Homo sapiens: one gene and its partner. The protein of the gene in region 1 purifies or fractionates together with the protein of each later gene. This does not show direct contact. Each region holds a gene or a part of one and is shown in the gene's direction. Other genes may lie near its edges.

Region 1 (3,613 bases):
CTAACTTAAAATAATTGCAGATTTTCAAATACTAGTAGTATTCTTGGTGTCTGTCCATCAAGAAAGCACATGTGACCAAAAAATCTACTGAGTAAGTAATCCTGTTAAATAGATTTGCATTTGGTGATATTTATTTAGTCTACAGCTAGTGTGACTCCTCCCCCTGTTCCCACAGAAGAGACCATCCCATTGCATTTTAAGACTAAATTTTAAACCCAAAATGTTTGAATTTCTGCTTTGGGATAGCTCAAATGCCAAATTTTTCCTCCTGTGTCCAACCTCACTCTCAGCCCTCAGCCCCCAGCCCCAGGCAGAAATGATGCTCTTGGGTAGCAGCTTAATGGTATTTTAATTTAAAAGTAAATGACGGCACCTCAGGGCTCTTGTGCATGGCTCAGAGATCACAGGGTAGTCTGCAGAAAAATTCCAGCCACCCTGGCCCACAATGTACAAAGAACACTCCATTCACACACTCTACCTGCCAAGGTTGTGGAAGGGGTAGAGACAATGGCTAAGACAGGTTTTGGGTTCTCATTGAATAATAATTTTCCATATTTACTTCATCTGCTATGTCAAGCCTTTAGCCAGAAAGATGGTCTGCCTGCCTATAGCTGGGGGCCTTCTAGCTTTCCATCTATCTGGTGCTGGTGTCTTGTTCTAGAGAAAATTTAACCTAATTCATCAGCAAGATTATGTTGAGCCCCAGTGGTGCCAGGCCATAGCTTTGTGCTGGGTATTTGCGGGTACTTATTTAGAAAGACGTTAAGTGTTTGCTTCTAAGGAGCTCATGGCTTAAGAGCAAGTAGAATATGTGAAGAAATGTGAAGGATGCTTTGCTTGGTTGAGGAGTAAGTTGGTGGTCCCCTGGAGAAAGAGGGAACAGAATTCTGAGGTAAGGGTGCCCCAGTTGGTTGCAGATAGGGTTTCAGCTGAGCTCTGGTTTCATGCCAGTATCCCTGGCACCACACTCAGCCACTTTGTCTATTGCAGGGAAGCTATATGCTGTTGGGGGTTATGATGGAGCTTCCCGCCAGTGTCTGAGCACTGTGGAGCAGTACAACCCAGCGACCAATGAATGGATATACGTGGCGGACATGAGCACCCGCCGCAGTGGCGCAGGTATGGGAGAACCTCGGGGTGCTGGCTGTGTCTGATTTGCTCACAAGTGGGTCCTTAAATTTTTTTGTTTTATTTTAGATTTAGAGGGTACATGTGCAGGTTTGTTACATGGATATATTGCATAATGGTCGAGTTTGGGCTTCTAGTGTACCCATCACGCAAATAGTGACCATTGAACCCAATGGGTAATTTTTCAACTTTCACCCTCCTCCCAGACTTATCCCTTTTGGAATCCCCAGTGTCTATTGTTCTCATCTTTATGTCCATGTATACCCATTATTTAGCCTGTACATATAAGTGAGAACATGCAGTATTTGATTTTTTGTTTCTGGGTTATCTCACATAGGATTATGGCCTCCAGCTCCATCCATGTTGCTGCAAAGGACATGATTTCACTCTTTTTTTGGTTGCATAAGATTCCATGGTGTATACATACTATATTTTCTTTAATCAGCCATTGATGGATACTTAGATTGATTATATGACTTTGTGGTAGTCAGTAGTGCTGCTTTAAACATAATAACTGTACATGTCTTTTTAATATAATGATTTCTTTTCCTTTGCATAGATACCCAGTAGTGGGATTGCTGGGTCAAATGGTAGTTATATTTTGAGTTCTTTGAGAAATCCCCATACTGTTTTTCCATAGAGGTTGTATTAATTTATATTTCCACAACAGTGTATAAGCATACCCTTTTCTCTGCAACCATGCTAAAGTCTTTTTTTTTTTAAACTTTTTTTTTTTTTTTTTTTTTTTTGAGATGAAGTCTCACTCTGTTGCCCAGGCTAGAGTGCAGTGGCGCTATCTCGGCTCACTGCAAGCTCCGCCTCCCGGGTTCCGCCATTCTCCTGCCTCAGCCTCCCGAGTAGCTGGGACTACAGGCACCCACCACCATGCCCGGCAAATTTTTTGTATTTGTAGTAGAGTTGGGGTTTCACCCTGTTAGCCAGGATGGTCTCAATCTCCTGACCTCATGATCCACCTGCCTCGGCCTCTCAAAGTGCTGGGATTGCAGGCATGAGCCACTGCACCCGGCCTTTTTTGACTTTTTAGTAATAGCCATCTGTAAGATGATATCTCACTGTGGTTTTAATCTTCATTTTTCTGATGATTACGATGTTAAGCATTTTTTCATATGATTATTGGCCACACTGGCATGCCTTATTTTGAGAAATGTCTGTATGTATATCCTTTGCCTGCTTTTTAATGGGGTTGTTTTTTCCTTGTTGAGTTGTTGGAGTTCCTTGTATATTCTGAACATTAATCCTTTGTTGGGGGGCATAATTTGCAAATATTTTCTCCCATTCTGTAGGTTGACTGTTTGTTGATTATTTCTTATGTTGTGGAGAAGCTTTTTTTGTTTGTTTAATTAAGTCCCATTTGTCTATTTTTGTTTTTGTTGCACTTTCCGTTTGGCATCTTAGTCATAAATTGTTTGCCTAGGCCAATGCCCAGAAGAGTTTTTTCTAGGTTTTCTTCTAGGACTTTTATAGTTTCAGGTCTTATATTTAAGTCTTTAATCCATCTTCAGTTAATTTTTGTATATGGTAAGAGATAGAGGTCTAGTTTCATTTTTCTGTATGTGGCTAGCCACATACAACACCATTTATTGAATAGAGAGTCTTTTCCCCATTGTTTTATTTTTGTCGACTTTTTTGAAGATCAGCTTGTTATAGGTATGTGGCTTTGTTTCTGGGTTCTCTATTCTGTTCCATTGTTCTCTGTGTCTATTTTTGGTACCAGCACCATGCTGTTTTAGTTACTATAGCCTTGTAATATAATTTGAAGTCAGGTAATGTGATACTTCTGACTTTGTTCTTTTTGGTTAAGATTGGCTTTGGCTATTCGGGCTCTTTTTTGGTTCTGTATAAACTTTAGGATTGTTTTTTCTAATTCTATGAGGAATGATGTTGATAGTTTGATAGGAATTGTGTTGAATCTGTAGATTCCTTCAGGGAATATGGTCATTTTAATGATATTGATTCTTCCAATCCATGAATATGGGATGTTTTTCCAGTTTGTGTAATCTGTGATTTCTTTAATCAGTCATGAGTGGGTATTGGTTCAACAACTTAACATTTTATTTTACCTCCTCCTCCTCCTTTCATTTTGCTGTATATAATCCTACTAGCACCTTTGCAGCTAGACACAGTACTTTATAAGTTAACCTTTCCTGGGGGATCACTAGAGAATGGATGAGATAATACGCTCCTCCTCATCATACCTTATGTTTCTATGAAGGTGTTTATATCTTTTGAAAGTTAAGGCTTACTATGTGCCAGGCACTGTCCTAACAAGTACTTTTTATGCCTCAATCCATTTAATCCTCACTGCAGCCCTACGAGGTGGATACAATATGAATTGCACTTATCAGATTTAGAAAGGAGGTCTGCCAGTGGTTGAGTAATTTGCCCAAGGTCATATAATTAGTAATGCTGACTCCAGAGTTAGCTTTTTAAATCCCTAAATTATCAGTCTTATTCCTCTGAAGTA
Region 2 (3,613 bases), on another chromosome or scaffold:
AGAGACAAAGAGAAATCACTGAATTAAAAGTAAAAGAATTTGAAAATATCAAATTACAGTAAGTCTTCGAAATGTATTGTAAAAATAGGCAAATGATAAGTGATATAATGAAGATAAACATAAGTGTTTGCTATGCCAGGCACTGTTCTAAGACTTTTAAGTATATTGTCTCATTTTTATCCTCAGGACTGCTGGTTACATATGTTATCATTTTCCCCATTTTAAAGAGAGGATATGGCCTCAGGAATGCTTAATAGCATGTCTGGGGGTAGATGGGAAAGCCATAATTTGAAACTAGTCAGTCTGACTCAAAAGCCAATACAAATTCTTTTCCAGAATCTCATTTTTACCTTCTTTGAGCCTCAGTTTCATCTTATTTATTTATTTTTATTTTTGAGACAAGGTCTGGCTCTATTTCCTAGGCTGGAGTGCAGTGACATAATCTCAGCTCACTGCAACCTTGACCTTCCAGGCTCAAACCATCTTCCCACCTCAGCCTGCAGAGTAGCTGGCACTACAGGCAGGTGCCACCACACCTGGGTAGTTTTTTTGTATTTTTGTAGAGACAAGGTTTCTCCATGTTGCCCAGGCTGGTCTTGAACTCGTGAGCTCAAGTGATCCGCCCACTTCGGCCTCCCAAAGTGCTGGGATTACAGGCCTGAGCCATTGCACCCAGCCTCATCATCTTTAAAATGGAAATAATAATACTTACCCTGGCCCTTTCAGGGTGGTTATATGAAGGTCAAATTATACCGTGTATGAAAGTAATTTGAAAACTGTAAAATAACATACAGATAGAAAACTTTTGATTACACACTTATAAGAGTGTCTGTCATATAATAGAGATTCTAAACATTGTTCAACCACTTTATCAGAACGTAGATTTTAAACTCAAAATAGGTTTATAGTTAGGTAGTTTCTAATCATTATAATATTATCTCTATGGGCCTAAATTTTATTATCTGAAAAAACATGAGAAAATTGAACTGCTTGACTTATAATTCCATTTCAGCTCTCAAGCCCCTGCTAGAGTCTTTGATTCTTTACTCACTTATTCAAATGCCTCTGACAGAATTAACACTATTTTTGCTTTGCTAAGGAGCTGCCACTGTTAAGAAATTACTCTCTAAAAGAAAGAAAATTGGCAACAGCATATGTGTATTTTCAGTCTCTTTTCCTCACTCTATTAAATTTTGTACAAGAGATGTTATTTTTGGTCTAGTAAATTTCTGTCATGTTTTGGAGTATAAAATTACTTGTGCTTTTGCATCTAATTTGTGGGTGTAGAAAATCATAATCTTTTGAAATACCTTATATAATACATTTTTTTGCCACAGGAAATACTTGAAGTTATTGTTGTGTACCTTACGTCATTTTAGTCCAAAATTATACTTGTGTTCTCTGTGTGCATATTTTGATATGTATTAGGAGATTATGGATCTGTGTGATTTCTTAAGTAAATCCTGATATTTTCACAATTTGATGATGACTCTTTAAAGTTAGACTTAAGTTTTGCCAAAAGCAAGAAGCCTCAAAGAGTAACATTTGTTCATGTCTTAACACTATCTCCCTCTTATTGGTCAGAATCTCAGTATGGATGCAGTGTCCATATGCACAACAATATATTAATTCAGTTTAACAGACTTAATGCTGAATAAGCAATAAGATTAATTGAATTAACTAAATCTTTTGATAGTATCCACTTCCATATATATAGTTATAGATATAATGCTAGTGAATTTGAACCATAAACAAATTAATAATACATGTGATTTCTGTGAAAATTTATATTAGTCTTTTCAATATGTCAATATAGGGCAGTATTTCTCAAATATAGAGGATCAGTTTTTCACCATTGTCCCTCTTGGGGACATTTGGCGATGTCTGGAGACATTTTTGATTGTCATGGCTCGGGGGTGCTACTGGTATCCAGTGGGTAGAATCAAAAGATGCTGCTAAACATCCTATCATGCACAAGGCAGCCCCACCACCAACAAAGAATTATCCAGTCAAAAATGTTACTAGTAGTATGGTTAGGAAACTATCATATAGAGGAAGCAATCACATTTTACAAGAGCCATAATATTTAAAATGCCTTTTTGTTCATTCTCTGTATATTTGACTAGAGTCACAAAATAACTTGATAAGATTGTTGCCAAAAATATTAGAAACTAGAAGAAAAATGTGTTGTTAAGTCTAAGAGTAGTTAAATGAAATAAAGAATTATTCTTCTTTGGATTTGGATGCCTGCATCAAGATTTAGATTGTAAGGATACTTAGGACTGAACATTTGCTCTATATGAAATTTGTATTAATCAAGGTATGAATTGCAGCAACCACTCTATTAATTACATATGTTTGGCCAGGTGTGGTGGCTCACACCTGTAATCCCAGCAATTTGGGATGCCAAAGCGGGCTTATCACCTGAGGTCATGCGTTCAAACTGGCCTGGCCAACATGGTGAAACCCCATCTCTACTAAAAATACAAAAATTAGCTGGGCCTGATGGTGCACGCCCGTAGTCCCAGCTACTCAGGAAGTTGAGGCAAAAAAATCACTTGAATCTGGGAGGCAGAGGTTGCAGTCAGCCGAGATTGCGCTGCTGCACTCCAGCCTGGGTGACAGAGTGAGACTGGGTCTCAAAAAAATTAAAAATTAAAAAACACACACACACATATGTTTATTTACATCAGGCTTCAAGAAAACCATGAAGATGAAGTGAAAAAAGTAAAAGCGGAAGTAGAGGATTTAAAGTATCTTCTGGACCAGTCACAAAAGGAGTCACAGTGTTTAAAATCTGAACTTCAGGCTCAAAAAGAAGCAAATTCAAGAGCTCCAACAACTACAATGAGAAATCTAGTAGAACGGCTAAAGAGCCAATTAGCCTTGAAGGAGAAACAACAGAAAGTAAGTAACAACAGAAAATTATCAACATTTAGGAAAAATATGTGGTAGATTGCTTTTAGAGAAGATTTGTAAATTTATAAAAGATGGTAGTATAAATCTCCGTGTTGTAATAAAAAGTATGAGCTTTATCTTATGCTGTTAAACAAGGTATTTTAGACAATGCTGTTTTTGTGGGCAGATATAGTCCAATTTATCTTTTTATGTTTTCGTCAATCTGATTTGTGAATTATCTATATGAAGTTAGGAAAAATCTTAATGTACATTACAAAAATATAATATATATTACATTGTATTTTCTTTTTTTCTACTGGAATTTTATGCTACTGAGGCTATTTTTAACAAATGAACAATTTTGAACAATTTGAGGGATTGAGGGAAGTATGATAATGACAAAAAGGGATGAAAAAAGGGGGTCATAGAGATGTTTTTGTGAGAAGGAGTTGGTCAGTGTATTCTGATTTATTAGGGTTTTTTTTAGTTTATCTCAGATTTGATCTATTTAAATTGTTTTAGAAGATGCTGGTGTTTTTCTGTGCTAGCTATGAAATTTATGGGTAAACTTTAAGCCTTTCCTAGTCCTTTTGTTGTCTACCTAAATTCAATTAATTTCATATGGAAGGATGTAGTAAGTGAGTAATATAAATATCTAAAATTGGATGTTTGAAAACAAAACATACCTGTTTTTTGTAATAGCTTGATTTAATGC

Evidence for each region.
Region 2: the proteins of KLHL3 (region 1) and CEP290 purify together in Homo sapiens (affinity purification with mass spectrometry; one large-scale study listed by BioGRID and IntAct). This does not show direct contact.

Annotation. Positions count from the first base shown.
Region 1 is NC_000005.10:137,631,543-137,635,155, reverse strand, and holds part of KLHL3 (kelch-like protein 3), read left to right. Parts: intron 1-990; coding exon 991-1,119; intron 1,120-3,613. UniProt on the Homo sapiens protein: Substrate-specific adapter of a BCR (BTB-CUL3-RBX1) E3 ubiquitin ligase complex that acts as a regulator of ion transport in the distal nephron.
Region 2 is NC_000012.12:88,079,476-88,083,088, reverse strand, and holds part of CEP290 (centrosomal protein of 290 kDa), read left to right. Parts: coding exon 1-58; intron 59-712; exon of another isoform or gene 713-776; intron 777-2,693; coding exon 2,694-2,907; intron 2,908-3,613. UniProt on the Homo sapiens protein: Involved in early and late steps in cilia formation. Its association with CCP110 is required for inhibition of primary cilia formation by CCP110.